2 separate regions of the Homo sapiens genome follow, and region 2 is linked to region 1. Evidence: fine-mapped expression QTL. A gene starts in region 1. The other region holds a variant in brackets. All regions are shown on one strand. Distances are from middle to middle.

Evidence for each region. PIP is the estimated chance that this variant, and not a neighbour inherited with it, causes the effect. A credible set is the group of variants that fine-mapping cannot tell apart.
Region 2: its variant is the best candidate, but not a certain one, in a credible set for the expression of GRPEL2 in whole blood (INTERVAL, PIP 0.70).

What each region holds. Positions count from the first base shown.
Region 1 is chr5:149,339,098-149,355,543 of GRCh38, forward strand. It overlaps GRPEL2 (GrpE like 2, mitochondrial), which reads left to right and starts at 6,402. Exons shown (of 4, transcript NM_152407.4): 1 at 6,402-6,519; 2 at 9,175-9,328; 3 at 10,557-10,638; 4 at 11,821-15,486. The coding sequence starts at 6,443. The coding sequence ends at 12,185. AFAP1L1 (actin filament associated protein 1 like 1) reads left to right here. Exons shown (of 19, transcript NM_152406.4): 19 at 910-4,540. The coding sequence ends at 933. GRPEL2-AS1 (GRPEL2 antisense RNA 1) reads right to left here. Exons shown (of 2, transcript NR_132366.1): 2 at 9,019-9,301. RefSeq lists enhancers at 6,085-6,710, 6,711-7,334, 7,859-8,359.
Region 2 is chr5:149,205,630-149,222,075 of GRCh38, forward strand. It overlaps ABLIM3 (actin binding LIM protein family member 3), which reads left to right. Exons shown (of 24, transcript NM_014945.5): 6 at 1,379-1,505; 7 at 5,097-5,190; 8 at 11,330-11,417. Among named protein-coding and RNA genes, the nearest start is that of AFAP1L1, 58 kb to the right of the region's middle. The variant C/T (reference allele first, on the strand shown) is at 8,766.

The sequences.
Region 1 (16,446 bases):
TCTCAACTCTGCCATTGTCGCATGAAAATAGCCATGGACAATATGAAAATGATGATGAAAATGGCTGTGTCCCAATAAAGCTTTTTTTTTTTTTTTTTTTTGAGACGGAGTCTCGCTCTGTCACCCAGGCTGGAGTGCAGTGGTATGATCTTGGCTCACTGCAACCACTGCAACCTCCACCTCCCAGGTTCAAGCAATTCTCCTGCCTTAGCCTCCTGTGTAGCTGGGATTACAGGTGCACAACACCACACTCGGCTAATTTTTTTGTATTTTTAGTAGAGACGGGGGGTTTCACCATGTTGGTCAGGTTGGTCTCGAACTCCTGACCTCGTGATCCGCCCACCTCGGCCTCCCAAAGTGCTGGGATTACAGGCATGAGCCACGGCACCTAGCCCAATAAAACTTATTTACAGGCACTGAAATTTGAATTTCGTATCATTTTCATGTGTCATGAGATAGTCGTCTTCTTTTGATTTTTTTTTCCAAACATTTAGAAATAGGAGCTGATGGATTATATGAGAATGGACAATAGGCCAGACTTGGCCCACAGACTATCATTTACCAGCCTTTCATCTAAAGCCTTTCAGGCCACTGAGGAACCATGGATCTTGTTCTAACATAATGGATCTTGTTGTGACATGATGGAAGGTTTTGAGCAAAGGGTTTTGGATATAAATTACATTTTTTAAAGACCATTCAGGCAACTATGTTGAGAATGGATGAAGGGACAAGAGATACCAGCATGGAGAAGTGACTTACTCAGGGCCACAGAAAGAGAGAGAGGGGGTTAGAACCCAACGCAACCTGGCTAGTGGAGATCTTCATCTAACTAGGTGCCGTGAAATCTCTTTATCCATGTCACACTAGACCATTCAGCAAATTGATTTGTCTTCTCTTTCTGTGCTTCAGGAATGGGAAATGAAGAAGACCTAGGAAGAGGATGAGGATTTCATTCCAAAGGAAATACCAGCTTGTCCACCTGAGGAAGAAATGCTTTTTTCACAAGGAGACACCAAGAGAAGACTAGGAAGTAGCCCTCGTTCTCCAGGGCACCCAAAATACCAGCCTTTATTGTCTGCATGATTTTAGGGGATATGGGGAGGGAACAAGTAGAAGGGAAGAGGGAAATGGAGAGCATCCTTATGACTTTACAAAGGGTGGAAATGAGGATGGAGGGATACAGAAGTCTGCACAGCTGTAAAGGTTTTATAGATGTCTTTGCCTTCCCTTCTGAGGAAGGGAAGAAGTAATGAAAGCACATGTGAATAACCCCTTCCATCCCATTCACAGCATCGCACTCCCAGTCCTTAAGGCAAAGGGAGGCAGTGCTGAAGCATTGGTGGTGCAGTGTAAAGAGACAAGACCTGATCATCTGATCACACTTGTGCCAACTTGATTCATATTGGGCATTACTAACAACCCCTGGTCAAGGTAAATAGGTTGAACAATCAATAACATTATCCCTGCCTGCATACATGTGAACAAAAGCTATAGAGGACATGCAAATTCTACAGTCATTCCTCATATGCTTTAGACAGAGTGCAGCTACTGGAATCTTCCAGATTTCAGTGTTTTAAAATCAGAGCTCTGAATACACAAAAGGAAAGAGAAATGGAGCAGCTGACATATTTTAAGCTCACAGTGATACTCAGTGACAGGAGCACAGAGCTCTAATGTCCACAGGATGTTGTAGGGTAGGGTCTCTCAGTAAATCAAGTCCCTTACCTATGTTCTGACACTGAGGCTCTTGGAGCTATGGGTTAGAAATCCAGGAGGCAATATGTCTTTATTCTAATGAAGTCCTCATCTTGCACTCAGAGGCCCACTAGTTTGCCCTTCTATATATTAAGTAAAACCAAGAGAAATTAAGAGGATGATGGCTTCTTTCTGTCACATGGGTGCTAAACCTTTTACAAACACTTGATACTTCTATAGAGGGACCAAGGACCTCAAGTCCTGGGCAGTCTCCTTACTGTGCTACTCACTACTGTCTCAACACTGTAGTGAGTCTGTCTTTAACACATTTCCTTCCAATAAAGATAAAACCACTTAACTCTTAAGTGCCAGTGCTTAGCTCAAGAGGAAAGAAGGAAAATCCCAGAATAACCGTGGCCACTTTGCTATAGGGGTTACATATTTTAACCCACCTAAGGTTTTACAGACTTTAGCCTCACTCAAACTTTATCACCCTCTGAGGTAGCTGGAGACCACAGCAGGAAAAATAACCTGACCAGTAATCACCCACTGATTAGTGGCAGAGCGTAGGACTTAGGGGTTATAAGCCCAGATCCAGATAGGGCTAGGTTTGAGCCATGCCTCTAATGACCAGCTGGGTGACCTTGGGAAAGTCACTTGATTGCTCTGATTCTTGTTTTCCTTATCTGTGAAATGGGACTAACAATTGTTACTTTTCTCCCAAGATTGTTGGGAAGATTTAATAAGATAATATATAGTAGGCATCTTGCATAGTGTCTGAGAAATAAGAAATGCTCAGTCAATAGTGGCTCTCATTAGCCAGGCATGGTGGTACTCGCCTGTAGTCCCAGCTACTCAGGAGGCTGAGGCAGGAGGACCGCTTGAGCCCAGGAGTTTGAGACTGTAGTGCACTATGATCACGCCTGTGAATTGCCACTGCACTCCAGCCTAAGCAAATAGCAAGACCCCATCTATTAAAAAAAAAAAGTGGCTATTATTAGCTATATCAGAAATGTCTGACTCACAAGCCTGTGTTCTTTCCACTGAAGAGGAAATTACTTTTCAGTGTTCTTTTTTAAAACGTGGATCCTGAAATGTCACCTAACTCTCCAACTATGTCTTCAGTGTCTGTCATACTCTTTCTTATGCAGTTATTTTGGGGTTAAGTGTCTTTTCTCACCAACAGATGAACTCTCAGAGGAGTGGCTGGGGGTAATTAATAATTAACATTTATCAAGCACTCACCATATGTCAGGCACTGTGTCAGCCATGGCCAGCTTCACAGGCATGCAACCTGTGCAGTCACACAGGGCCCCATGCTTAGAAGGGCCCTGTTCTTGGTTTAATGCTCTACTATTGCCTTCTTAATCATATTTGAACAAGGAGTTCTGCTTTTCCTTTTGCCCTTTAAATTAGATAGCCAGTCCTGGTGCTAACTAACCACTTTTCTAGGTATTATCCCTTTAGTTTTCACTGAAACCCTGAGATAAGTTATATTGCCCTAGTTTTCACAGTTCAGGAAATGGAAGCTCACAGAGGTCAGGTAACTTGTCCAAGCTCCCATAGTTCTTATATTTACATGCTGGTGGAGCCAGCATGTGAATATAAGAAGTCTGACCCTAGAGCCTTATTCTTAATTTTAAAGCTCTATGTCATCCATATATCTCCCTCCCCTTGTACTGCAACATTCAGAAGCACACTAGCACTTAATAAATAGACGAATGAATGCATGGATGCAAGCAGCAACCTGGTGAACGTTAGGCAGCTAGGAGAAATGTAAGCAAAATGGCTAAGGCACAGATGCCACTTGTTCTTGGTTGTTAAAATGCCTTGTTTAGGCCAGGTATGGTGGCTCATGCCTGTAATCCCAGCACTTTGGGAGGCCGAAGCGGGTGGATCACTTGAGGTCAGGAGTTCAAGACCAGCCTGGCCAACATGGCAAAACCCCATCTCTATCAAAAATACAAAAGTTAGCTGGGCACGGTGGCACATGCCGGTAGTCCCAGCTACTTGGGAGGCTGAGGGAGGAGAATCACTTGAACCCGGGAGGTGGAGGTTGCAGTGAGCCGAGATCGCACCACTGCACTCCAGCCTGGGCAATAGCAAGACTCCATCTCAAAAAAAAAAAAATGCCTTATTTGGTTGTGTTTTTTCAAAGTGTAAGCCACAGGTCTAAGCCCAACACTGCCAAGTGTTCAGTCTGTCAGAATTCTACTGTCACTGTTTCCTTATTGCGGGATCTTGCATAGGTTTACCAACCTTTCTGAGCCTCAATTTTCTCATATGTAAAAGAGAATCATAATACCTCCCTAAACCATATCACCCTTTTCATAAGGCCAAAAAGAAAATATAAGTTATTGGTCATGACACATTTGAGTTGGACCTCGGATTAGATAAAAAGATGAAAATACTCCAGCTCTGTCCTCATGGAACTCAGAGACAAGCAGGAAAGAAAATGTGACCCAAATAACTACAGTACAAATAACCCATGTTATGACAAGATTCAGAGTGCTCAAGGAACACTTCCCATTCCCTTAAAAAAAAAAATTAAGGGACTATCCAGTAACTAAGCTGGCAACTCCAAGTGCCCTGGACCCCAGTCACCAATCCATCCTCTCAGTCTGTCAGCTTTCCATCCTAAATCTCTAAAATTCATCCATATCTTCCTATCTTCACTGACACTATCCAACTTAATTAAGTCATTCAACAAATACTTGAGTACCTACTATACTAGATGTCAGAAATCAGTGGTGAACAAGACAGACACCTCATGAAGCTCACATTCTAGTTGGAGGAAAAAACCTTAACAAGGAAGCAAAAGAAATAAAATACTAAGAAACTAAAAGGGTGCTGGACACAGTTACTTTACAGTGGTTAGGAAGGTCTCTCTCTGTTCTTCCAGGACAGAATATAGCCCCATCTTGCCTGGGCTACTGCAACATATTGCCTTCCCTACCTCTTTTCTTACACCTTGCAATCTGCTTCACACAGCAGTCAAAGTGACTCTTTAAACATGAAAGCCTTTGTCACATGTTCCCTGTCAATCTAAAATAATTTAAAAGGTCAGAATCTAGTTTAAAGAGAGTTTATTCAAGCACAAAGGTTGAGGATGGCCTGCCCAGGAAGCACAGAATGGAAAAATATGTCTGTCTTAAAAAAGATGGAAGTCAGTGTTCCAAAGTGTGAAAGGTTGGGTTCAGTGAGGTTTAACAGAATTTCAACATCTTTCTATGCAAGGCTTAATGCACAGTTACAATGATCTGAGTAGTTAAGGTGGTCTTTTTCCTTCAAGAAAGGTACATTTAACATCACATCCTGCAGATGTAACTGTCATGGGGTCAGTTCAGTTCAGGGCACCATCTAGTCTGAGTTAGGTGCAGGACAATAAAGGAGGCTGTCTATTACAAACATCAGTAATTGAGAGGGAAGAAATCTGGTCTCTGCTCTTTCCTAGTCATTACAGAACAAGAACAATGAGGAAGAGAATTAAGCTATAATTCTAAGAAGCAGAACTACAAAACATGCTACATGGACTCAGACCACAGCCACATCTCTCTCAAAGCTTCAAGTATTTGGGAGGTTCCAACAGCTTTTAGGTTTTATTTATTTTCACATTCCATTGCAATCAGAATCAGACTAAATTGCATTCAGCAAAAAAGTTTTTTGAAGCCGGGGGCGGTGGCTCATGCCTGTAATCCCAGCACTTTGGAAGGCTGAGGAAGGCAGATCACCTGAGGTCAGGAGTTCAAGCCCAGCCTAACCAACATGGTGAAACCCTGTCTCTACTAAAAATACAAAAATTAGCCGGGTGTAGTGGGCGCCTGTAATCCCAGCTACTGAGGAGGCTGAGGCAGGAGAATCACTTGAACCTGGGAGGCAGAGGTTGCAGTGAGCCGAGATCGTGCCACTGCACTCCAGCCTGGGTGACAGAGTGAGACTCCATCTCAAAAAAAATAATTTTGAACACCTACATTAGGGCACTGCTCAATGGGAATGAATAGACAATATCTCTGCCTTAAAAGAGCTTATATTTTAGTGAGAGGAAATGAGAAAATACACACTATTTAAAAAAACAATTCAGTCGATAAGAAGGGCATTAGAGAAAAAGACTGGGAGGAGTGATGGGCAATGGTTCAGGCTGCGATGTTTTAAACCGCTCACGTGATCTAGCCCTTCCTAACCACCAGTCCTGTTGCCCTCCCGCCTCAGTATATTTCAGTCCCTTACATGCAATACTCTTCTCTCTTTATTAGGCTTCTGCAGATGTTTCCCTCTGCCTGAACCCTTTCTTCAGCTCAGCTCAAATACCCCCTTCCTCTGGGAAAACTTTCCACAAGGCTAGATTTCTATTCTAGGCTTCCGCGACACCTGCCCCTCACCTTCAAACACCGCTCATATTCTGACTTTACATCCCGCTTGTATCTGTTTATCGCTCATAATATCAAGTAAGCTCCATGCGGGCACAGCTATGATCTGCTTTCTTTGCTGCCGACCCTGCGCCCAGCACGGAGACTGTAGTTACTACTAGGACCTCGCCTACCCGCGGAACACACTGAGAGCCGGAAGTGTTGCCTTAGCTCCGGACGACCGGATGGGGAACGGCGCGGCCCATCGGGCAACCGGAAGCATAGCGTTCCTGTCCGGAAGTCCTGAGAGGGAAACGCCCGCAAAGGCTGGTTTTTAAGCGGGAGCATCTCTTCACTCGCAGCAAGTGCGCGTGCGCTGCCTCTCAGCCCAAATTGGAAACATGGCCGTACGGTCGCTGTGGGCGGGCCGGCTGCGGGTGCAGCGCCTACTGGCCTGGAGTGCCGCGTGGGAGAGCAAGTAAGCATTGCAGGCGGGGAGTCGGGAGCGTGAGGACTCTGAGGGGCTAGCGAGCCAGCCGGGGTGGTTGTGGGCTGGAAGGCGAGAGCTATCTGAGCGTAGGCCAGGGGACCAAGCTTCTCGGCCTCTACGACCGTGCACTCACGGCCCCATTTTACAGACGGGGAAACTGAGGCCATCAGCCGTGCCTCTTTCTTAGGCCGAGGAAGGTAAGGAGATCCGAGGTCATGCATGGCCTGGAAGGTGAGAAGTCTCTTAAGCCCCCAAGGGAGGGATGTACCACTCTCCCGGCCTCTTCTCCCAGCCTGTGGTACCTGTGGGTAAATTTGGGTTCTCTCCCCTCACTCCGTGTGACCTAAGGCCAGTCCTTTCTCCGTTATCCGGGCACTGTTGTACCTGTCAGTAAAAGGAGGCCGCTGAACTTGTTTCTCCAAACGGCCATTGCATCAGCCTTCGGAAGACAAGTTCCATCGGCAGCTTTTATTGGTCGCTTACGAGGCCGACTGCAGAATTATGGGTGGTTCTTTTTATTATTACCCATTTAGTAGTTAAGGAAAGTGAGGTTTAGAAAAGTTGAGTAACTTCCAAACTTAAATATTTGGGAAGTGGTGGAACCCGGGCTGGAAACCAGTCAGGGCGTTGGAATCGGCGCTCTTATTTAATGAGCGATGTTAATTAATTTTCTCAGAGACTGTTGCCCCTACACTGTTTCTTCCTGGGATAGAGAATAAAAATAGTTGAGTACGAGGTAGGGTTGGACCTCTGAATAGTAAAGTAAGCTACGGGAGAATCTGGTAAATGTGCTTAACTACATATGTCACCCTTTTTACCTTAACACACCTGACCCAACATCCTACCCTAGCACCTAAGTGAGAGGTTGCATTCAGGGTTTCGGGACTTGGTTTTGCTTACCGTTCTCAAGTCTTTTTGGCAGCTTGTTGGTGATGTAAGGAAATGACCAGAAGAAAAATGGTTCCTTCTGGTAAGCTGTCTCCCTACTCCAGTTCTGAAGCAGTAGGAATTGAGATTGGCCACAACTCCCCAACCCTATTTCTTGGTCTAAGCTTTGGCCATTTTCCCTTTGAACTGGCCCTGAGAATTTTTTTTTTTTTTTTTTTTTTTTTTTTTTTTTTTTTTTTGAGACGGAGTCTCACTCTGTCGCCCAGGCTGGAGTGCAGTGGCACAATCTCGGCTCACTGCAAGCTCCGCCTCCCGGGTTCACGCCATTCTCCTGCCTCAGCCTCCCGAGTAGCTGGGACTACAGGCGCCCGCCACTACGCCCAGCTAATTTTTTGTATTTTTAGTAGAGACGGGGTTTCACCGTGGTCTCGATCTCCTGACCTCGTGATCCGCACGCCTCGGCCTCCCAAAGTGCTGGGATTACAGGCGTGAGCCACCGCGCCCGGCCCCTGAGAATATTTTGACCTGCTTTTTCAAGTGGATAAATGTGGTTTTTTTAGGGAGAAGATGTTTCACCGTGTGTAATTAGCCCCAGATCTACGGTGACCATATTTTCTGACCCCAAAATGTGGAACTGTCTATAAAATCACACACCGGATTATAATAATTGAATTTAAGATCAGCTTGGAAAGTAGGAGAGATAAAAGTCCTCTTGCTTACACCTTTAAACTAGCTATTTGCTCTGCCCAGGATGCTCTTCCCTTTTCTAAAGCTGACTCCTTTACCCTCTTTAAGCCTTTGCTCAGCTGTCTCCGTGAGGACCACTCTACAGTATATGCCAGTCCATAAAAATTGTTTTAAAGAACTCATGTACTCACAGATTGATTTTCAAGATAATTTTACTTACAGTCAAATTACGAAGATCCAGGAGTTGCAGTGGAAACTTCCTTGAACTGGGCCAGGTCAGGACTGCCACAGCCCAAGATTTGCTGTAAACTAGCCCCTAGTCTAAATTTATTTCTGTGTAAACTGAACTAAATGTCAAAACAGTTTAGCTGTACAAAATTCTAGATTACATAACTAGTTGAATGCAAAGATCTATTTTCACCTGTGTCTATTCACCGGCAGTAACATATAGTATTGTATAAGTATTTCATTGACTTGATCTTATTTATAGGTGGGAATTTCTTTCTCAGCACAGGTCTCCTAAAAGCCTTACAGGTTGTGGTGAGGAAGGCTTAGAATTCTAAGCCTTAAGGTCCCTTTACTGGACTTAATTTCCCTCATCTGTAAGTTAGAAGGTTGAACCAGAACTATATGACTTTTTGAATGCCCACTTCTGACAATGCTCCTCTGGTTCTGGGTACTAGCATTTGGTTTCCTTATGCTGACTTTTGTATACCCAGTTCTGGCTATTTCTGCTGCCTGGTTCTTAGTGTCCTGACCCAGCGGAATACCAACTATGTGATCTTGAGCAGGCCATTATGCCTTAAGCCTCTCAGCATCAGTTTTCTCATCTGTAAAATAGGGATAATGATAGGACTTATCTCACATATTGTTGTGAGAGGAAAAGATGACTCAAGTAAAACAGTGTCTGGTACATGGTAAGGACTTCGTAAGTGTTCATTTGTTACTATAACTGAAAACACTTTCTCCAGAGATTCCATCTGGGAAGATCTCTGGTCTCTAAACTTGGTTGTAATTTTGGCTTATGATGGCATTTCTTCATTATGTGCCACCTCCTTCCTGTTTTAGGGGATGGCCGCTTCCATTCAGCACTGCCACCCAGAGAACTGCTGGTGAGGACTGCCGTTCTGAGGACCCTCCTGATGAGCTTGGGCCCCCTCTTGCTGAACGAGCCTTAAGGGTAAAAGCTGTTAAACTGGAGAAAGAAGTCCAAGATTTAACAGTGAGTCAATTTTATATTTCTTCTTCATATCCTCTCTCTAGTTTAAATATCCACATAAAGTTTTTTATGTCAATTTTCAAAATGAAGTTTTCTTTAATTGGCTCTTTATCTGCTACCCCTCATCCCTCCTCCACTCCTTGCTAGGTATACTGGGCAGAAAAAAACTGTAGTAGTTGAAAAACACCACTGGCTAAAGATAGTCATCTCTTTTCGGTTTCCTGTTATGTCACAGCACTTAGATATCTGATGTTTCAGCAGATTAAAGGAGGTGTACAGTGCCTGGAATATAGTAGACAATAAATATTTGTTGAATGAGTGAGGTCACTGACCATTGTTCTTTGCTGATGAGACCATGTCTGGCATACTGGACCCAGTCCTGGGTTGATAGACACACTTAGAGGGAGATAGATAAACTAGAGGAATTCCAAAGCAAAACCACCTAGATAGAATGGTAAGGAGGCTGGAAAGCATTCCTTATGACAGCAATTGAAAGAACCACGAATTGTCTTAAGAATGAGAGAGAAAAGGACTAAAGAGGGTAAAATAACTGCCTCCAAATAGATGACATACTTTTTTTTTTTTTAAATGAGACGTAGTTTCACTCTTGTTGTCCAGGCTGGAGTACAATGGCATGATCTCAGCTCACTGCAACCTCTGCCTCCCAGGTTCAAGTGCTTCTTCTGCCTCAGCCTCCCGAATAGCTGGGATTACAGGTGCCTGACACCATGCCAGGCTGATTTTTGTATTTTTAGTAGAGACAGGGTTTTACCATGTTGGCCAGGCTGGTCTCAAACTCCTGACCTCAAGTGATTCGCCCATCTCAGCCTCCCAAAGTGCTGGGATTACAGGCGTGAGCCACCGTGCCCTGCCTAGATGACATACTTTTAAAACTTATTCTCAGTTATCCTTAAGTTCAAGTCAATGAAAGGAAGTTGGAGGTTGGCAGTGTTGGCTGAATGTGAAAAAGAAAGCTTTTCCTCAAGATAATGAACTTGAAACCGTTAGGAGTTTGAACTGTCAGGCTAAATGACTACCTAGCAGTGCTGCTAAAGAGTGGGTTTCTGCGTTGACTGGGGATTTGGAGTAGCTGATCTAAGATTTCTGTAACTCCTAGTTTGTTTTATAAAAACCTATCAAAAGGGTGAAATTTGTAAAGTAAGCAAAAACATTCTCTTCCACCAATAAGTATTTGTTTTCTCATCCTTTTGATTTTGCTTTTGATATTCAGGTGAGATACCAGAGAGCTATAGCTGATTGTGAAAACATAAGGAGGCGAACCCAGAGATGTGTGGAAGACGCCAAGATATTTGGTGAGAGATTTATTTACAATAAAAATGTCTTTGGTTGGGCACAGTGGCTTATGCCTGTAATCCCAGCACTTTGAGAGTCTAAGGCTGTCAGATCACATGAGATCAGGATTCAAGACCAGTCTGGCCAACATGACACCTCGTCTCTACTGAAAATACAAACTAGCTAGGCATGGTGGCAGGCGCCTGTAATCCCAGCTACTCTGGAGGCTGAGGCACGAGAATCACTTGAACCCAGGAGGCAGAGGTTGCAGTAAGCCAGGATCATGCCCCTACACTCCAGCCTGGTCAACAGAATGAGACTCAGTCTCAAAAAAAAAAATGAAAAATGTCTTTGACTTCAAAGTCAAAGACCTAGCCTGTTTTGACACAAGGCCTTAAGCCTGTCCCTGGATTAAAGTCAGATTAACAAAGTCCTTGACTCTCACCAGCCCCCACTGGAGCTTTGGTATCGTGTCATAGACCTCTCTAATGATGACTTTCTTGCCCTCATTTCTGTAAGAAAAATCAAGTTTTAGAATTGAGCGTAATGGGATTTCTCAACAACTGAATTTACTTTTGTCTTGTAACAGTTCGTATGACTCTTTTAAAAAATCAGACAAGTTTTGTGGTCCATCTCTAGCAACTTCATAGCCAACTTACCTCATCTATGGCTGTGTCTTACTTTCGTGTTCCTATTTAGCCAGTCCTCAAGAATAAACCATTCATGACACCCCTTAGCATAGTGTTGTTGACTTTCTTTTTTTATTGTTAGTGCCCTTCTCGTGAAATATTAATGTCTTGTCCCTGTTGAGAATGTATGCCATAGCACAACTGGGACAGGCAGGAATTTTCAAAATGTACATAATACTACAAGCAAATAGCAACAAAAATTCATGTACATAAAAATAGTTGTTTTTAAAGAACAGGTTTAAGCCTGTTGTGTATAGTCTTACCTAGTTCTTGGGTTCTGTCTTTTCCATTTCCTAGTCAAGTTCCTAGTCATATATGCCTTCTGAGAGAGACACTGACTTGTCAGTTGGGTTGGGGTGGTAATCAGTGATGATCTCTGAGTCCTGTGTGGCAACCTTTCCACTTGCTGGACTACTCAGCATACTAGCCGTCTATCTAGGCCTTACCCAAACTCTATGCCCACGGGCAGAGTGATTTCCTCACAAACAATAAAAATAACTGGCTTCTCTGCAGGAATCCAGAGTTTCTGTAAGGACTTGGTGGAGGTGGCTGACATTTTGGAGAAGACTACAGAGTGCATTTCTGAAGAATCGGAGCCTGAGGACCAAAAGCTCACTCTGGAGAAGGTCTTCCGAGGGTTGTTGCTTTTAGAAGCAAAGCTGAAAAGTGTGTTTGCCAAGCATGGCCTGGAGAAACTGACACCCATTGGTGACAAATATGACCCCCATGAGCATGAACTCATCTGTCATGTGCCAGCTGGTGTTGGGGTGCAGCCTGGCACCGTGGCATTAGTAAGACAAGATGGCTACAAACTTCATGGCCGCACCATTAGGCTTGCCCGAGTGGAAGTGGCAGTGGAGTCTCAGAGAAGACTGTGAAGAGGCCATCAGGAACTGGATGTTCTCCCAGAGCGCAGTCACCTATGTTTCTTTTATTTATTAAACTAGGTTTGTATTGTACATGAGGTACTTCATGTGATATGTTTTGGATTTAGTCATATTGGCTTTATTTCTAAGATATTCTATTGATTTAATGTGACCTGTTTGGTCTCATCAGAAGTCTTACCATTGGGCATTTGAACAGTGTGACAGGTGTTCCAATGGCCTTTATCAAAACATGTTTAGGAAAATTGGTACTGTGATAAATTTGAATCCAAAATCCTTTTAACTATGGGTTTTCAACTACATGTTTCTTCCTAGCGGTCTCTATAACAGGAATTGTGTAGTATCTTGTATTTTGTGGAAAAAGGAGATGGTAGGGATTGGTTCAACATTTGGGTACTTAGAGGATAAAGCTTCGTGGTCGTATAAATTTAGATCATTTGGATTGATTTTTATACACATAGATTTTCAGGACTTTACCTTTTGTTTTGTTTTTTTCCTTTTAGCCATCTTTTGTTCTTGTAATCCCAACTAGATAGGCTTTATGCTCACATCATTGTCCCATACCCACCCCTTTCTCATCCCCATTTGCAGGGGCTAAAGGTCTAGATGAGACTTGGAAGGCAAGGAGCATCGAAATTTGAGATACCCAGGACCCTTTCAAGCAAGAATGGCCAAAAAGCCTTGTGCTGTCTTTGCTCTTCAAATTATTTTCAGCCTCCTTGTCATATAATCATTTCAGGCAAACTGAGGCAACACTAACAGCTAATGACCCAGATGGCTCTATTTGGGTAATTTACCTACAACTTATTCCACCAGCCTTTACTCCTCTGCCCTTTTGTCAATTTTACCTTATAATCCTTTATTAAATGATGGGAGGTGGTGATCAGGACAAAAGTGTTAGGTTCCCATGATTTCTCATTTCATTTATTAATAGTTAATGCTGAATTTTTTTTTAAGTTTCCTCTGGCTCTATTTATGTTACTTTTTGCGATAAGAACACTTAACATAAGTATTCTCTCCTCTTGGCAATTTTTTTTTTTTTTCCTGTGTTGCCCAGGCTGACCTCCAACTCCTGGGCCCAAGCAATCCTGCCTCAGCCTGCCAAGTAGCTAGGACTACAGGCGTTCACCACTGCGCCCGCAAAGTTTTTTTGTTGTTTTTTTTTTTAAGTTGGTACTCACAAATCACTACCTCTGTTATATTGACAAGCTCTATTTCCTATTCTTTGTATCTGTTAAGTCACATCTGTGTAAACATTGAGCTCACCTTTTATATATTAACCTCTAGAATTAATGGGCCTATGTGGTTTTTTTTCAGTCTTATAGCTGGTGTTCTGTAAAAGATTTGTCCAATAAACGACTTAATGAATGATACATCAGTCAGATTTTAGGAAGGCAGTCAATTATGGATATTTTAATGTTGGAAGAGGCCTTAATGATCAAATCTCACCCTTTCTGCTTCTGAAGTATGAAAATCTAGTCTTTTTAGGACTGGACACAAGGAAAATAATCTCTAAACTATTGACTAAATTCCAGTGAGAGTATGAATGAAGAACAACTAGATATTAATGTCAATCATTTAAGATTAATGGGCATGCAATTAAGTCTCCATTTAAGATTAATGGGCATGCAATGAAGTCTCCAGCAGACAATCAGATGTTGTTGGATGTCTAGATTATATAGGTTTAGGTTGAAGTTATAAAATAAAATAAAATTCATTTTCCACTGGAACTCTATGACATTCAGTGGAGTGGTGGAAAGTTAACCTCTTATACATTATAGATAATTCTAAGACAGCACACAAACTTATCAATAAAGCCATCTCCTTGTGGGCCTTACCATCTTCATCAGATTTAGACCCTTAAAAAACAAGTAAATATGCACTTTTAAAATGCAATCAAAAGACTGGTGGTTAAGCTTGTAAAACCAGAACATCTTTTGGCATTCCACTAAGTATATATTGTAAATTTAATGAACAATCAAGGTTCACAATAGGAAGTTGTCTTTTTTTGCCTTCCATTCTGTGAGATTTGACAGATGGTGACAATAAGAAAATGAGCTGATTGTAATTACTCTCTGTGTGTTTTTTTATTGCTAGCTATCATTACCAGTTAGAATTAACATTAATTACAATTAACAATAATTTTAGGTATGGAATGTTATGATTACCTAAAGAGATGTCTCTACCTAATGAGCTCAAGTGATCCTCCCACCTCAGCCTACCAAGTAGCCAGGACCACAGGCAAGTGCACCACCATGACTGGCTAGTTTTGTTTTTTGGTTTTTGGTTTTTGGTTTTTGGTTTTTTTTTTTTGGTTGGTTGGTTGTTTTTTACAGGCGGGGTCTCACTATATTGTCCAGGCTAGAAGAATTTTCTAATGGTCTATTACACCTCCCGTTTTGGCAAGTAAATTCAGAATAATTTTAGGTTCTTTTGTTATTCAGTAGTTTTGCAGACTTAAAAGTGTAAATTTAGAATTAGAAGATGAAGCTATAGTAGTAAGAATCTCAAGCTGAAGGGCTTTGGGGAGCCAAAGCAGCATATTAGAGCATAGGCTTGAACTTAAATCTCAGCTCAGTCACCTGCAGGACTTTAGGCACCAGTGATTTCACCCTTCTGAGCCTGTTTCTTTATTCGTAAAATGATTATAATAATTCTTTCACAGCGTTGTGAGGATTAAGTGAAATGTGTTAAATGCCTACTACAGTAGGTGCTCAGATATTTATTTTTATTTTTTTATTATGCACATTGTTTTTCCTGCCTTTTTATGGCTGTCTAAAGTCTAGGGAAAAGGGAAGACTGGTTAATGATGAGTAGAAAAAACTTGTAAGCTAATCATTCACTGACTTATTTTCCTTCCATTTTCTGGTTTTTAAAATTAGCCACACCACAGGAAACCCACATTTTTAGATGGAAAGAGCAAGAAAATTGTGTCAGTGCTCTTAGTTATTTTCATCTTAATGGTATAGTGAAAAGACATTGACTTGAGATGATACTAAGGAAGCTTTGGCTCACTCTCACTTGAAGAGGGGATCTTGGTGTTGTAGTACTTGGACTGTACAAATGTTTTACTGACTTTTCTTACTGCTGTAAAGGAATCAGGCAGTTGGGTATTGATATGTTATTTGGTGCTCTCATTCATGGCAAAGGATTTGATAAATAAAAGTTCTTTAAACACTAAAGCAAAATCAAATGAGCAAAACTAAGGATGAAATGTAATATTCATCAGAACAAGGATCACTGAGAAAAAATATTCAGAAACAACTTTAATAAAACCTGAATTGAAATAACTGCAGCTCTGGTGTTTAGAGTCTTTGTCTGCCTATTCGTATTGTATATGGAACATTATGGTCACTTCATGACTGCTGACCTGCCTTGTTGATGCTCTGGAGAGGTACCTTGAGATCTCATAGCAGCATAGCCAAGTGGATGCACTGTGGGCTTTCCCCACCCTGCCTCCGTGTTGAAGTCTTGTCTGTTTTATTCCTCCTTGACTTGCCTCTTTCTGATTGCTACATATTTCTTAGATCTGGATTCCTATTTCTGCCTTTTTTTTTTTTTTTTTTTTTTGAGATGGAGTTTTGCTCTTGTTGCCCAGGCTAGAGTGCAATGGCGCGATCTCAGCTCAGCGCAACCTCCGCCTCCCAGGTTCAAGCAATTCTCCTGCCTCAGCCTCCCGAGTAGCTGGGATTACAGGCACCTGCCACCACGCCTAATTTTTTGTATTTTGAGTAGAGACAGTTTCACCACGTTGGCCAGGCTGGTCTTGAACTCCTGACTTCAGGCGATCCACCTGCCTCGGCTTCCCAAAGTGCTGGGCTCACAGGCCTGAGCCACTGTTCCCAGCCCTATTTCTGCCTTCTTTTCTGGCATTGACTTGTTTTCTTGGGTTCGCCTTTTGGTTCTAGGTGTCTTATTTCCTTTGACTACTGCTGACTATTCTCCTAACCAGATTACAGACACTTGGCCTTGTTCTGACCTTCAGCTTCCCCATGTCCTTCCCACCTTGTGACTGCCTGGCCTTGTCTTTACCTCTGCTTCTCAGCTAGCTTCCATATACCTAGACTCCTGGCTGAATGGCCCTCTGTTGGGCCAGCCTTCCCTGGGATTTGGTCTTGCGTTTTCATTATCTTTCCAATACTGTCTGTACACTGTAGCTCCATAAACCATGTGTCCCATATTCCCAGTGCTAGTCAGTGAGTATATTCTTATTCCTATCCACTCAGATGTCCATGCTCTCAAGTTCACTGTAGTT
Region 2 (16,446 bases), 130 kb before region 1:
AAGTAGACTTATAGACTTACCCCAGGAGAATAGAAAGGAAGAGAGATAAATCCCGAAACTCTTTATTCTCTCAGCCCCCATCTGAAGGCCTGGGGCTTGAAGCATTTTGCAAGTAGAGACCTTTCTGCCCCCAACTTGTACTAAGGGATGTTAGAAAGGCACGCAACAGCCAAGAGGCGGAGTACTGTGGGAACTGACTCATACAAACACTTCATCAAGGCCCCAGACCCTCCCCACAGCCGGCTGGACCCACCACCCTTCCTAGATTTGCAGACACATCATCTTTTCTTCTAGGACAGGCTCCCAGCTGGATGTGGGGGCTGTCCAGCCAGAATCCCCTAACTTTACATGCAGTTTCTGCTCTCCTCACTACTCCCAAGTGTGCATTTGTCTTATGGAGCCAACAGGGAAGTTTGTCCTCTGGTCAACTTTGCCCCATGACCCTTTCCTCCGCCAAAGTGGGTCATCCGGTTGGCTAGGCCTGAATTCCCAGCAGTTTCCAAGTGCCTTGGACGTTGGCTCCATTTCCGGACCCTCCTCAGACATTCATTGAGCAACAAGCTGATGCTAGGCTTGTCCCACATTCTCTTGGCCCCAACTCACATTCCAGGGTGACCGTGTCAGGGAGTGAGGGCACCTTTCTGGTTTGGGACAGTCTCATCAGACCCTGTAATCCTTGCCACTTGGGAAGGCACATGTTCGATGTGTGAAGCACAATGGGGAAGGGGTGGGTGTGGTAATTCTGTTTGTTGCCTGGGTACCATCAGGCCCATTCATTCATACACATTTGGCAAATATGCTTTGAGTTACTGCTATGGGCTGAGCACTGTGCTAGGCAAAGGAATAGGTTTAACCACAAAATATAAACACAGCCCTTGCCAATGTGTATATAGCCTAAGGGTTTGAAAAACTGTATACTTAGCCCATCCCCAGGAGCAGTGCTTCTTAAACTTTTACTCTGCACGGAGGTCTTGTTAAAATTCAAGAGGTCTGGGTGGGGTCTGCAATGCTGCACACTGCCAGCTTCCAGGTGATGCTGACGCTGCAGATGGCAAGGTCACGGACAGCAGCAGAGCTTAGTTAGCAATTTGAGGAGGGCTGGAAGCAGTGCAGGGTCCACTTTCAGTGAACAATGTGGTCTTGATGACAAGCAGGGAGGTCTTTCTTTCTCTCCTACACCAAGACCCCTTGTCAAGAGGCCAGGACTCCAGTGGCTTTTTCTCTCCCCTGGGAGAGCCTCTGGGAAGCTTCCAGTGTCAGGTGGGAGCAACTATGGGAACACTGGCATTCAGGGAGGGGTTTCCTTGACGTGGGCCTGAGATAGCGGGGGTTAAAGGGCCCAGGGTGCTTTGCTCAGCAGTGTCCTCTTGTCTTGCAGACTGTGCCGGGTGCAAGGAGGAGATCAAGCACGGCCAGTCACTCCTGGCTCTGGACAAGCAGTGGCACGTCAGCTGCTTCAAGTGCCAGACCTGCAGCGTCATCCTCACCGGGGAGTATATCAGCAAGTGGGTCCCCCTGCTCCTGCCCCAGCTGCCTGGGCCTCTGCATTCTGTGAGGCCTGCCCCATTGAGCCCATGCCTACATCTCCAGCATCATCTCCCTTCCTTTCCGTCTGCTGCTGCATTCTGGCCAAACAGCATCTTTCCCAGCAGCCTCTTTCCCCCGTTGGACCCTCCCGGGGGGGTTTCCCTCTGCCTGAGACACCCTCCCTGTTCCTTGCACGCCTGCTGCCCCTTCTCTCCCTTCTGGTCTCGGTCCCCATGCCTTCCCCTCCGGCCGTCTCTCATTTACTGCCCCGTTTTGGGCCCTCAGAGTACCTTGTTGTTTCCTTCACACAGGCTACCACCATTGGTAATTACATATTTATCCCTGGTAACTTTGTAATAATGCTAATAATACTATCTACCATTTATTGAGCTTTAATTATGTAGAAGGAACTCACTACTTTGTATGAAGTATCACTTTAAATCCTCATAACTGCCCCTTTGAGGAATTTATCCCCACTGAATACTCAGACTTGAGAGAGTAAATAACTTGCTCCAGTAATAGTGTTTAATCTCTGTACCCACCAGGAGAGGGGCTTTGTTTTAATCACTGCTATATCCCCTGCCCTGAGAGCAACACCTGACCCACAGTCAATAATATAGTTGCTGAATGAATTTAATGGATATGAGAGGAGGTGATGGGTGCATAGTTATCCAGAGGGGCCAACCTCCAGTGACCCACACACTGCAGTATTAGACAAGTGTCCTCTTGTTGCTGGGCCCCAGTGACCACATTTATATACTCAAGTACCTAAAAGTAATTATCAGCACAGATCCTTTGTCACAGCTTTGACATCATATGACCCCAGACCCTTCTAGGTGCCACTCTCTGGCCTGATGCCAGGCAGTGGCAAGCACACAGAGCTGCAGCACACATGCTTCTGCTGTCAAGACCCTGCAGTCTAATACGGGAAACAGATATGCTGCGTTCATGAAGAATTATGACACCAGGAAATGTGTGATCAGGAGCCCAGACAAGCTTTATTCTTTAAGACCTTTTTGATCCTAAGTGACAGAAAACCCACCTCCAACTCAATTAAAAGCAAAAATAGGAGTTTATTAACTCACAGAAATGGGAAGGCCAGAGGCACACTGGCTTCAGACATGGAGGAATCCAGGGGCTTAAGGATGTCATTAGTACTTCAGAAGTCTCTGTCTTTCTCTATCTATCTTTTTGTCTCTCTCTCTCTCTCTCTCTCTCTCTCTCTCTCTCAATTTCTCTTTCTCTCTCTCTGTCTCTCTTTCTCTCTCTCTGTCTCTCTCTGTCTCTGTCCCTGTCTTTCTCTGCTGTCTTCATGGTGGATTAGTTCTCAATCTGGCCCTCCCCAAGTGCTAGCAAAGAAGATTGCCAACACTCCAGGCTTCCATACCAAGCCTAGCAGAAAAAGAGGCCTCTTTCCCAGGAACTCCAGCAAAAGTCCCAGGTCTGCCTCTGATTTGGCCACTGTTAGGCCACATGCCCATTCCTGACCAATCACTGGCCCAGAGGATCTGAACCCTAGAGCCAGAGAGCAGCCTCTTGTGACCCACAGGGACCTCAACTGGGAAGGGGTGGCTTCCAAAGGGAAATCCAGGCGAGGTACTATTATCAGCAGAAGGGGAAATGGATGCTGGCCAAACAACACCTGCCTGTGTCCAAGATAACAAATAAAGGGCTGTGAATATTCAGAGAAAAAAAGGATGACTGCTAACTAGCATGAAGTAGAATCTTGAATCTCTGAGAGTTCCATGGAAGGTGGGGGTAAGATTCAAAAATGCAAAGAAGAAGAGCTTCTAGGCAGAATGGCCAGCCTGGGCAAGGCCAGGGCAGTAGGGGAGTGTTGGACATCTCCATCCTGTATAGGAGCTCAAACATGTGCCCAGGTGAAGCCAGATCCTGGGCTGCATAGGTGAGCTGAGGTCACATCACCGAGAGCTCTCGATGCCATGCTAGCAGGAGTTTGGCATTCCCCTCTATGCCCACCAAGCAAGGAGTGCCCTTAGTACATTGCCAGCCAGGAGTGCTTGAGTCTGGAAGCCTAAATCAGAGTTCTCTAGGGACTTAAGGGATTGTTCAGAGCTCCTCTCAAGGAGGCCCAGCCCAGATTGCCCACCACACCTGGTACCTCTGCAGCATAGCTCTGGGCCCCTTACCTGGCTGCTGGCAGAGTGGCAGGGGCTCAGAGGCACTGGCTCAGGCATCAGATGCCCAGGATAGAAGCGCAGCCTATGTGACCTTGGCAAGGGACTCCACTGCTCAGAGTCTCAGTTTCCTCATTTATAAAAATGGAGAGAAGATGATCTACCTGTAGGGTTGTGTAAGGGCTCAGAGATCTGTGCTTAGCACCCAATAACTGCCCAGTAAATACTCATTTTACCATCCTCTTTTAGAATTGTGTACCGCTAATTCCCCAAGAGAAGGATGGATCCAAAAGAGATTGTGTTGGCATTTATACTCAAATCTTGTTGGCTCATCACATCCACCTTCTGACAAATGACTTTTTCTCCCTGCAGAGCTACCCTCCCGCACCCACAGAGTGAGAACCTGATTGAGCGGGGGAGGAGGGAGGAGTTGAAAGGGTTGGGGGAGGTGTGTCTCAGGGGCTCACAAACAAGTCCTTGCCTTGTGGGCACAGTCACACCTCCAGACCTTGGTCGGACATCTTCAGACCTTGGTCCTCACTGCTGCTTCTCCAGGAAAATGCTGCCCAGGGTGGGCCCCCAGCAACCTCATCAGGGCAACAGCTTCGAGATGGAAAAGTGATGTGCCTCTCCTTTAGGTCTCTCAGTGTCTGAGCCAAGTTCTCTTACACCCAAAAGTGAAAGAAATGTTTCTCCTCAGAGTTCAGACTTGGTCATTAGAGCGAGGCAGAGCCCGAAGCAAAGCTAAGCTCTCCGATGCCCCCAACTATCTCTACCTCAGTCCTAGAGAACTGAGAACCAAATGTCCTCCTCAAAGACTCCTCTCAGCAATCATGGCCATTCCTCCAGCTGCCATTTGCTGAGTACTCAGTATGGCTAGGCACTGTCCTGAGCCCTAGGGTACACTGGACCCATCTCCTTTAATCCTCATGACAACCTGGGTGAGAAACCAGACAACCTGGGTTTGAATTCCAGCTCTAGGTCATCCTGGGTGGCCTGGGACAAGTTACTAAAGTGTGCTATGCTTAGGTTTTCTCACCTACACAATGGGGATACTAATAATTCTGACTCATAGGGTTGCCATCAAACACCATCAAAGAGCCCGGCGCACACCAGCAACAAATGTTAGTGGCTATTAGTCATAGGGGGTGGTATAAGAATAAGGGATAACAATCTTATCACTGTCCGCCAAGTGATAAACATTGGGTAAAAAATGGAGCACACAGGAGGTGGTCCCAGGAGGCTTCCTGTCATCTACTGATCTGGGAGCACAGTCAGATGATTCTTTCATACAGATGAAATTGTTTATTAAAGGAGAAGTATCGAACTTTGGCTCAGTCAACATAGGCTGCAGGTCCAGAATCTAAATGCCATGTGCACCCTCACTGATCCTCCCTAACTTCCTCATCCTATGTGAACTTCTTCTTGCAGGGATGGTGTTCCATACTGTGAGTCCGACTACCATGCCCAGTTTGGCATTAAATGTGAGACTTGTGACCGATACATCAGTGGCAGAGTCTTGGAGGTGAGTGGGTATAAGTAACCGTGAAGATGTGGCAGGGTGATCTGTGCCTCCAAAAAGTCATCACAGAAGAAGGAGAAAGTCATCCCATACCTTTTTTTCCATAGCCTTTACCTCCTCCACCTTTGCTTGCTACATGACCTTGAGCAGATAACCTTGCTGAGATCTCTGGGAAACCCCAAAATGAGAAGGTAGACAAAATTCTTCCTGGTTCAAAAAATGCTGTGCTGGGAAAATCAGTTGTATCTTTGATTCGGACCCAGACAGATTTCTAAAGAGTGACATTAGGATTTTCCTCCCAGCCCTGCCGGAGAAAGGAAGTCTTTTTTATTTATTTATTTATTTATTTATTTAATTATTTATTTTGTTTGTTTGTTTGTTTTAGTATTTGGTAATGTGCTGATTTAAGAGCCAGCTTGTCTAGCAGCTTGCTCCCTAAGCCCTTCTTTGGTGGGTCCATCACCATGGCAACGCCTCTCCCCAGCCTTTGATGTATGACTCCTTCTGCAGTGACAGACAACCTGCAAAACCCTTGCTGAGGCCTTGCTGAGCCCCTGTGCACTGGTCTTTCCGGCCTTTCTTCCTATACCCTGTGGGCCTGGAAGCTATCTTCCTATACTTTGGGACCACCCACCTTGATGAATTAGAAACAGGGAAGGGCTCAGTGGAAAGGAAAAATAATAGCCTAACAGGAATAATTGAGTTCTAGTATTGACTCTACTCCTGCTCAGATTTTGAGTAAGTATCTTTGCTTTTCTAGGCCTCAGTTTTTCCATATGACAATAGCTAGAGGATCAGATTGGATCAGGTATTGTCAGCAGAATCATTAATTCTGCCAAATCTGGCCAGTTGGTTGTGGTTACCATGAGTGCTTTGTTGAGAACAAGTCTGCAGCCACATGTAGACTCAGCAGGAGGGGATGTAGCAACCAGGAAGGAACTCTCTGAGGACATGCATTGAAGCAGAGCCCTGAGGATGAAAGAACTATCCCTGAAGGGCCCTGAGGTGGGAAAAGATAGAGGAAGAATGAGCTTGACCCATTCAAAGAACAGAGAACCCACACAGAATTGTGGCTGCAGAATTTTTCTCAACACAAGCACTCATGGTAACCACAACCAAGTGGCCAGATTTGGCTGAATTAATGATTCTGCTCACAATAGCTGACCCAGTCTGCCAATGTGGCTGAATTCTATAAATTGAGGGTAGGGGAGGATGAAATATAAGAGTATATCATATATGGCATACCATGTAGGACTTTGTAGACCATGTTTAGAAGTTTGGGTTTTATACTCAGTGCAATGGAAAGCCATTGGAGAGTTTTAAGCCAAGGACTAACATGATAAGATCATGTTTTTAAAAAGATTTCTGTGGTTACTGTGTGGAGAATTTTCAGAGAGAGTCAGAGACAATGAGATATAAACAAATGAGCAGAGCTGGGAAACATTTAAGCATCTCGAGAGCTGTAAGGAGTGCGATGCAGAGGACAAGGCATGAGTCCAGGAAGGGTTGTTGGGGGTGGGTTTCTGAGGGCCTGGGATACCAGGGTGGAGTTTGCATGTGACTCACTGGGCAAGGGAGCATTGTGGAGAGACTGGGAAGGAACGTCCTGGTTAGAGCTGGGCTTCTGGGAGGATGACGTGATAATGTACACAGGCTACATTTGAAGGAAGGAAGCTGGAAGGGATGAGTGAGGAGGCCCCTGCGTGACCCAGGCAGGAAGGACTCAAGAGGTACAGTAGCAATGGAGAGGGAAGCCACCCTTGTGCCCAGCCCTATGGAAGTAGAATTCCAATCACTCTGCAACTGAGGGGCAGCTTGTGGACATGGGGATTGAAGGAGAAGCAGCTAAAAGTTGCACCAAAGAATTATCTATTTCTGAGGGATAGGAAGCCTGGTGTCATTGGCAGAACTGGGGATGACAGGGGAAAAAGCTGATCTGGCAGAAACATGGCGAGTACCATTTAGGATGAGTTGTGATTGAAATCCCAGGAGTGTTTCCAGAAGGCAGTCAGAAATACGGATCAGAGGCTGGGAGTGGTGGCTCACACCTGTAATCCCAGCACTTTGGGATGCCAACACAGGGTGATCACTTGAGTCCAGGAGTTCAAGATCAGCCTAGGCAACACAGTGAGACTTCATCTCTATAAAAAATAAACAAAACTAGCCAGGCATGGTGGTGCACGCTTGTAGTCCTAGCCATTCCGGAGGATCACTTGAGCCTGAGAGGTGGAGGTTGCAATAAGTTGAGATTGCACCACTACACTCCCGCCTGGACAACAGAGCAAGATCCTGTCCGAGGCAAGAAAAATGAGAAAAGAAAAGAAATATGGATCAGAGCTCAGGAACAAAGCTCAGGCCTGGAGGAGCCAATCTTAAAAACGTGAGGCTTTGAATAATAGCACCACCAGAGTCCTCAGGATTTCCAAGACAGAGGAAAGAGAGCAAGGAAGGAGGCTGACACCAACCTTGGCGAGCAGCTGCTCACAGTGAAAGCGACTCAGAAAGAGACTGAGGAGGTAGCAGAGGAAGATATGGGAAGAGAATCGGGCATTCAGTGAAAGGACAGAGCTTCAGAAAACATGGTGAGGTCAGAGTGTTGGTCAAACTCTGTAGAGCAGTGAAGGACTGCGTGGGCTGCGGAAAAGCTGTTGGATGTGGGAAAGGTCACCTTCAGAAGAGTCGTTTGTTGGCTTTGCAGAACTGTGGGGAAGAGGCATCCAGAGTGTAGTAGGTTGAAGGGTCAATGCGGTGGGAGATATTACAAAAGGAAACTTTTCTTTCCAGAAAGAAAGAACTTAGATTACAGACAGGGCCACAGATGGAAATTTGTTCAGCATTTCCAAGCTGCTTTGAAATCCTGTTGGTGGCAGCTGCCGTTTCCCCGAGAGTTACCGTTGTTTAGCATTGCGGTAGACTGTTCCTCCCAGGCAGCTGTTGTGACTGAGTTTCGATTGATCCCATTTCTACAAGGCTCCATTAGCATCTTCGACTTATTGATTTTTTTTTTTTCTTAGAGCTGGAAGAGACTTTTAGCAATCAACTAGTTCAACCTCTTCATTTTACAGATGAGAAAAGTGAGACCAAGACATGCAGTGTTTTTCCAAGGTCACAAGCAGCATTTCTGGTAGAGACAGAGCTAAAATCTAGGACTCCAGGCTGCTGTATCTACCGATACCCACAGCTCTCAGCCACTTGGGGGTCTTTGAGGTAGCATGATGTCAGGAAATAGACATGGCTGCAGTAAAACAGACTTGGATTCAGATTTTACCACTTCTAGCCCTGAAGCCTTAAGCAAGATATGTCCTCTTAGTCTGTATCTATCAACAGACAATACTACTGTCATTTAATTCCTAATGAACACGTTAGTCAAGACTTTTTGGGCTGCAACAGAGAGGAAGTTTCTCAGCTCCTATAACAAAAAGCCCAGGAGCTGGATCCAGTGCTTAAGCGAAATCATTTAGAATCCCCAGCCATCTTGGCTTACTTTCTTCCAAGTTAAGTTTATTCTCAGGAGGGCGTTCTTGGTGATGGGAAAGTTGGACACCAGTTGCCCCAGGCTTAGATTCTATCAGCCGGCA[C/T]GCCCGGTGGAAAAAAGAACTTCTCTTTTCTAATAGCTCAGCAAGCATTCTGGGACTGACTCTCATTGGACAATCTCAGGCCCATCCCTGGGCCACTAATTGTGCCCACAAAGTTGGAATATGCTCATTGGTGGGGTCAGCACTACTTAACCCTGTGGACTGATATGGAGAAGAGGTAGCCCCACCAAGGAAAGGCTTGGGACTGTTTCTGGAAGAAGGAGGAAAGAATGATGGCCATGCAGGAACAACAGTCGCCCAAGCACATCGTCTGGCACACTGCAGGCATTCAATTAAGTTGTTTCTCCTTCTCTTCTCATCCTGTCCCTTCCCATTTCCTCCCTAGGCCACCCCATGGTCCCTTCCTCAGTGACAGAGCTCAATGGCTGTCAGTGTCACTCCTTCCATCCCTGTCTGTTTCCTCACCAAAAAGGACCACAACCTGGTTTGCTTGTTGCTACATTTTTGAACCTGGTTTGCTGTTTTCGGTCCTCTCAAATAGGGCTCTGTTTTGAGGGTACCAATTTTTTGCCATTTTTCTTTACTATTTTCCTGATTTCAGTTCGTTAATAGACAAAATGGTTCATCTCAGCTAGCTGACGTGGCTTTTCCTTACTCTGGGTGCAGGCTGCCCTACCTCCCTTTGCTCAAACTGTTTTCAACACCATCCAAGACTGGGGCTGCTGAGATGGGCACAAAGCCTCTTTCAGCTGGGGTGAGGTAGTGGGGCATGACATTTAGGAAAATGCTAGGCTTCAGTTTTGCCAAGGCACTGTTGCCACACTGGAAAACAGGTCTATAATCAAAATGATAAAGAGACACAGAGTAGGAAGAGGCTGCTAATTAAACTGATTATCCTTGTCATGGTACAAGGGAATCAGTCCCACACATTCCAGCTTAGGAAAATAGCAGGCTCCTTCCAAAGTTTGAACATATTCGCTTTGATGATGACAAGGACACTGTCTCATTGGTGCGAGGCCATATAAACAAACGGGGGGAAAAAGGAATATTGGAGATTTTTTTCTTTTTGTAAAAATCTGCCTTTCCCACATTCTTGCTAAGTTTTTAGAATAGAGATAATATCTCCAGAATAGGCAAGCCCATCCCAACAATCTTCCACTCCCCCCACATAAAAAAAAAAAGAAAAAAAAAACTAAGTTTGGAAATAGGTCTTCTTATTATGCAATTATAATTTTTGAATTGGAAGGAACCCATTAGCATCAGATCAAGTGATGGCTTGGACAGGGACCTTTAAGAACCCCTAACATCCATCAGTTTCCCCTGGGCATTACCCTCCCCCAAAGAAAACCCTGCCCTGACGTTGCAAAATATTTCTTCAAACAAGGCCCACCTGCCAACCCAATTGCTGCACCAAGCTCCTGCATATACAAATGCTGGAGCCGCCGCTGAAGTTCCCTTTTACAAGCCCTCTTGGCTGGGATTTTGGTGTTAGAATTGTGACTCCAGAAGCAAGTGCTGAGCTGGTGACTGACTCACACACATCCGGACCCAACACTGCTGCTGGCTTGCAGTGAACCCTTGAGGCACAACCTTCTCAGGGGCTGTTTCTTCCCCCCATGGAAGTCTTTGCAGCTGCAAATTATTTTCATTTTTAATTTAAATAGTGATGGGGAAGGAAAGTGAAAATAGGGAAGGCACTCACCAAAGTCACACTGGGGTGAGCTGCGGTAGGGCTGGACACACCAGGGCAAAATAGTCACAGGACTGGCCTGGGGATCTGGGGCTCTACAGTGGGTCCTAAATCACCCACTGAGCCCTAAAAATCTGTCCTTTGTGTGCCAGTCTCACAATTTTTGCCATGTCTGTGAACCTCGTGAGCTGATTCTTCCATAATACTTTAAGTGTCTTGAGGTTGGCTCCCTTATATGTAAGGAAACTTATATACGACATAACAGGAAAGCAGTATCACTTGCCATATTGCATGTAACCTGAAAATAAATAGAGTTCTAGCTAGATTCTATTGCATGTGGAGGTTCCAAGCCTCACACCTGTTCTCATTCTTTAAAAGGCAGATTTGTAGGTTTTGGATAGATGTTAAAGACACATAAGCACCGAACTGGTACTTCGTCCTTGACAAAATCAGAAGAATGTATAGAGGACTGAAAAGATCTTTTTTTTTTTTCCATTGGTCCAATGTTATTAAATCCCAAGTTCATGTACCACTTAAAATCATTTCATGTAACATTAGTGGTAAGGGCCTCTCACTTGGGGAAATGCTGGGATGTCCTCAAAGCAAGCCTGTTTCCTCCTCTGGAAATGAGGAAGTTGGACCAGTGGCCTCTCAAGTGTCCTTCCCAGTGTCAGAATAGAAGAGCAGGTATTCAGGGAAGTCCCCTGAACTGCCATCAGGGATCCATGGAGTGAATCACGAAGCTTCCCGGCTGGTCTTTTAGATGGTTGTGGACTCCCTTGGGTAGCTCCAACCAACTTTAGGGCCATGAAGATGCAAACAACACTAATGTACCCAGGAAAGATTCAAACCCAATCTGCCCCACTAGACAGCAGCCCTGGCTCTGACCTCCTGTTTCATCTTTTCATTTCCATAGGCAGGAGGGAAGCACTACCACCCAACCTGTGCCAGGTGTGTACGCTGCCACCAGATGTTCACCGAAGGAGAGGAAATGTACCTCACAGGTAAGTAAATCTGACCCTCTGTAAGGCCTTCCGACCTGCTCATGACTGGAAAGGAGATGCGATCTTCAGGTTCAGTGTTATCTTGGCTTCAGGTTCAGTGTTATCTTGGCTTTTGCCTTGTCCTCAGAATTGCAATTAATTGGCCCCTCTCTGGGTGGATTGGGAAGGTTGCCGGTGTGGCTAATATGAAGTGACATGTAATCTGCCTTCCGTCTCTGTGCACCTCCACCCGCTGCCCAGCTGGACTGCTTCCCTGGCAGTGCTCTGAGCAGACTCTCCTGGCTCTGCCTTGGGGGTGGGAAGCTGAGCTGCACAGGCCCAAGGGGTCAGAGAACCTCAGAGGGATGCCTGGGTTGCAAAGTGTCTATAGCATCACAGCCTCTACTCTACCTCCTTCTCCCCACATCTCAGAGCATCATGCCAGGCTGCTGCTCAGGGCTTCCCAGGGACTCTCAGAACACACAGAGGAATGAGGAGTGCCAGTCGTCCCCACAAAGCTAACCAGGGCTGCTTTCCATCTGCTGCTTCCCAGCCCTCTTACCCCAGGATTCTTACAACAGTCCCCTAATTAGTCTCCAGATTCTGCTCAGTCCTCTACCCTCTGCCCAGCCCACCATCCCAGGGCATCACGTGCTCTTGGCACTGCCCTGCTCTTCAGAGCCCCTCCCTGTCTGCCTATTTAGCTACAAACACTTCAGCCTAGCATTTAAAATCTTGCCAAGGTCCCAGGCTTCCTTTGTAGCCTTGAACATACCCGACACCTAAGCTACCAAAGCTAACTTTTGATCATTTATTCATCCACTCAATGATTGTTTCTTGAGCCCTGCCATGTGTAGGCTCTGTGCCAGCGTCCATGGTGAGGCTCACCCAGCCCTACAGTCCCCTGAAGGAGATGGGCATTAATCCATAATCACATAAATAAACATCAGCTGTGGTAAGTGTTATGAAGGAGAGAAGTGTGGGCCTTTGAGAGCACATAACGGGGTAGGAGGAGCCCCAGGAGGGCTCCCTGACGAAGGGCCAGGAGCTGAGATCCAGACCATGAGTGGGTGTTAACTGATGTTGTAGTTCATCTGGGCTGTTATAACCTCAGCAGACTGAGATACAGACAGGGCAGCTTATAAGCAGAAATCTATTTCTCACAGTTCTGGAAGCTGGGAAGTCCATGACCAAGGGTCCAATAGATTTGGTATCTGATGTGGACCCACTTTCTCAGAGATGGCACCTTCTCTCTGTGTCTCCACATGGTGGAAGGGGCAAGGCAGCTCTCTGGCGCCTCTTTTATAAGGACACTGGTCCATGACCTAATCACCTCCCAAATAGCCCTACCTCCTAAGACCATCACCTTGGGGGTTCGAATTTTGGCATATGGATGTGGGGGACACAAAAACATCCAGACCATAGCAACTGAACAAAAAGTGGAATAGGATGCACCAAAATGAGAGGACAGAGCCTGCAAGACTCTGAGGTGGGTGAAGAAATGGCGAGTGCATAAGGGCAAGTGGAGCCTGTGTGGCCAGGGCGCAGACAGAAGTGAGATGCAGCCAGGAGGCAAGCAGGGTGTATGGGCTGGGCCTTGTGGAGAGACTTTGTTTGGACTTAAAATGAACTCATGGCCCTTTCCCTTGTCTTCCTGTGCCCTTCTTTGGAAATCCTATCATTTGAGGCCCAGTTCAGTCACTACATGCTTCATAGGCACCCAGGATTTCCCCAACCCCACCCACAATTTAACACAGTCCTCTCTTCCCCCATCCCCACAGCCCTCTGTCTGCCCCTGGTCCCCTCCAGCTTGTATGAGAGTTGTTGGCCTCCTCCCTAAGGTCCTGTGCTCCTGGCACTTGTCCCTCAGCCCTGACCCTGGCCCATGCATACTCCCTCCACAGGTGAATGTCATTGGTGGAATCGCTGTGATTGGATAGCCATCTTGAGAAGGAATTAGGGCCCTTCCTCCAGGTAGATCTAAGGCCAGGGCAGCAGTTACAGGGAGTGTGTCAGTATCAGCTTGTCCTAGCCACAATGCCCACAGCCATGAGTTCCCTCAAGATGCAATGAGTCCCCCTGTGCCTACAGCTGAGTTCCTTAGCCTCAGCACTGGTGACACTGTGGGCTGTCCTGTGCATTGTAGGGTATTTGGTACCATCCTTGGTCTCTACCCATTAGATGCCAACCACGTGCTTCTTCCCACTGACAATCAAAAATGTCTCAGATATTGCCACATGTCCCTAGGGGGTCAAAATCATCCTCAGTGGAGAACCACTGGCCCAGAGCTACCCAACAGAAACTTGTGCCATCTGCTAAGAATCCTGGAGCAGGAATTCCTATGTTGGATTAAACAAAGTGACCATTTCTAAGATGCTGTCTACTTACTTATATGAACTGATGCTGGAGTGGTAAGGATCCCAGAGTCACTCTAAACTGTAAAGTGCCAACCCTCATTGTAGAGATGGGGAAAATAGACCCAGAGAAAAGAAGAGACTTGTGTGAGAATGGGAGTGCGTCAGGGCAGAGCAGGGCCTGGCCTTGCGTCTCCCCTCCAGGGTTCTTTCCACTTTACCCCTGGGACCCAGGCCCTGCCTGATATTCAGGTCCCTGTCCCTTCCTGTGCACACCAATCCCTCATTGCCTGGGTTCTTGAGTGATTCCTGCTGCAGGAACCAGTGTTATGAGGCTCAGCAACCTGCACCCTGCCTTCATCCTGACCACCATGGGAACCTGGAGTTTGCACTTGGCTTGAAAATTTGTTGCACAATATTCCTCTCCTCCTTCCCTGGTGAACAAACCTCCTAGTATTGAAACTGCCCTCCCATTCTCATCCCTACCTGGATATCACTAGAATAAACCACGTCTTTGCCTCCCTGCCTGAATTCCTAATCTTAATCTTTCCCTGTTGGGTGCTTTCACCCAGAGTGCCTCAGGGGGGATCCTGGCTCCACTGATTACTAAGTTTTTGACCTTGGGCAAGTCTCGTAACTCTCTGAAACTTGGCTGTCTAATATGTAAAATAGACCGAGAACAGTTGCTATAAGATATAGGTGTAGTAATTTCGTGACACATGGGAAGCTCCCATTTCAATCATTCATTTAGCAAATATCTATTGAGGATCTACTGTGTCCCCGCTGCTGTTCTCACAACTGAAGGTGTGGCAGTGAGCAAATCAGTCAAAGGCCCTGCCCTCATGGAGCTCACAGCCTCACAGGTTAGTGCTTTCATTCTTCCAACTTCCCACAGGTGCTAAAAGAGTTAAGCAAGGAAGTAAAGTGCATAGCTTTGTGATCCTGAGAGAGAATGCACCATTAAACCTACAGTGGAAATGCCTCCAAGGGTGGGAGATATTCTTAGTAATGAAGATGAGCCTGTCACCTTCTCATTAATTATCCCCATCCCTCTCCTGGCTCCTGGGAGAGTGGGAGTAATTGCAGGGCATTCAAGGACCTGCCTGAAAGGATGCTAAGTGATCCTGGAATGAGGGGGACCAGGCCAAGCAGTGCTAGAGTCACGCTCACTTGGGCTGTGAGTGTCTTGTGGGGGTTCTGCTACCACTGAGATCTGGGCCTTGGACACCCTCACCAAGTGGGGACACCAGGATTCAATATGATATCCCCCAGAATTGGCAAGAAAACCCTGCTCCTGGGTAGCTCAGGAGTGTAAAGAAGTGGCTGAGAGCCAGGACTCCCGGGTTCAAGCGTCAGCAATTCCACTAATAGGCTGTGACCTTGAGAAGTGGCTTCCTTCTCTGGATCTCTTGCTTCACCTGTAAAATGAGGATAACATCATCGTCTTTCATTGATCCACTCAAACTGGGGGCCACGCTATGTGCCAGGCTCTCTGCTACATGTTGGGCATTCAGAGATGAGTGAGGCAAGCATGCTTGCTGTCCTGGTGGAGTTCACTCTCTGGAAAGAGAAACCAACAGTGCCAAATAGAAGTGTAAACATTCAATGACAAGCTGTGACAAGTGCTGCACAGAGAAAGTTTTGAACAATGGGCATGTGTTATAAAGCCCCTGCTCTAGTCTGGGAAGCCAGGGAAGGTGCCCCTAAAAAGGGATATTTCAAGCCAAGACCTTGAAAATGAGTAGGAGGTGGGAGGCTGAAAAGGGCAGGAAGATTGAGGAGGCAGTGAGAACAGTGAGTGCAAAGGCCCTCCCTGGGTGGGTGGAAGCAGAACGAGGTGGAGAAACTGAGGCAGGCCCACTTACCTGGCACACAGAGAGCAACCATATGCCACAAGGTCCTCATGAACATTAGAGGAGAGAGTGAATGTGAAGGCACTGGGGACTCCATAAAGCAACTTATATAAGAGAGAGAGAGTGTTGGGATGCCTGCAAAGCTTACAAACCCAGCCTTGTCAGTTCTGGAGCTGGACACAGCATGGTACTGGCAAATGGTCCTTGGGAGATTCTTTGGGTGAGTTTGTTTGTGTTTTAATTGCTATGTGATGGCTTTCTGATGGGCTCTAATTGGGAGAAGTCTGACGTCTGTCTGGAGGAGAACTTCTGGGGCCCCAGGAGACAAGAGCAAGTTTTATTTGTTTTAAGTTCTGTTGTGTATTCAATCTTTTAACTGTGTTTGTAAAGATGCCAAATATCTAATCTGTTTGTTATCCAAACCCTTCATTTGGGCTTCACCAGGAAATTAGGTCACTCATTTTGTGCAGCAAAATAATGGCCAAAATGCTGCAGGTTCAGGGCAAAACTTATACTGAAATCCCAAAGGTTGCAGTTACTAGATCAGTGAGAGTTTTTTTAAAATCCCAAATGTGGTTCATGAGACAAATTTTGCTCTTGTTCTAAATGTGCCTGTACCCAGGAAAAGGGAGAAAATAGACTCTTCTTCTACCCTTCTGTCTACACCAAATACCCTCCTGTTCTAAGACCTGAGACAATAACCCTGGAATTACGTAAGTTCAGCTGCACATTTTAAAACAATTCGCTGTTATCATTTGTATATTTAACTAAAACCCACAAGGCAGGAAATCATTTATAAAATACTGGACAAACCTCACTCTGCTAAAGAAAAGTATTATAACA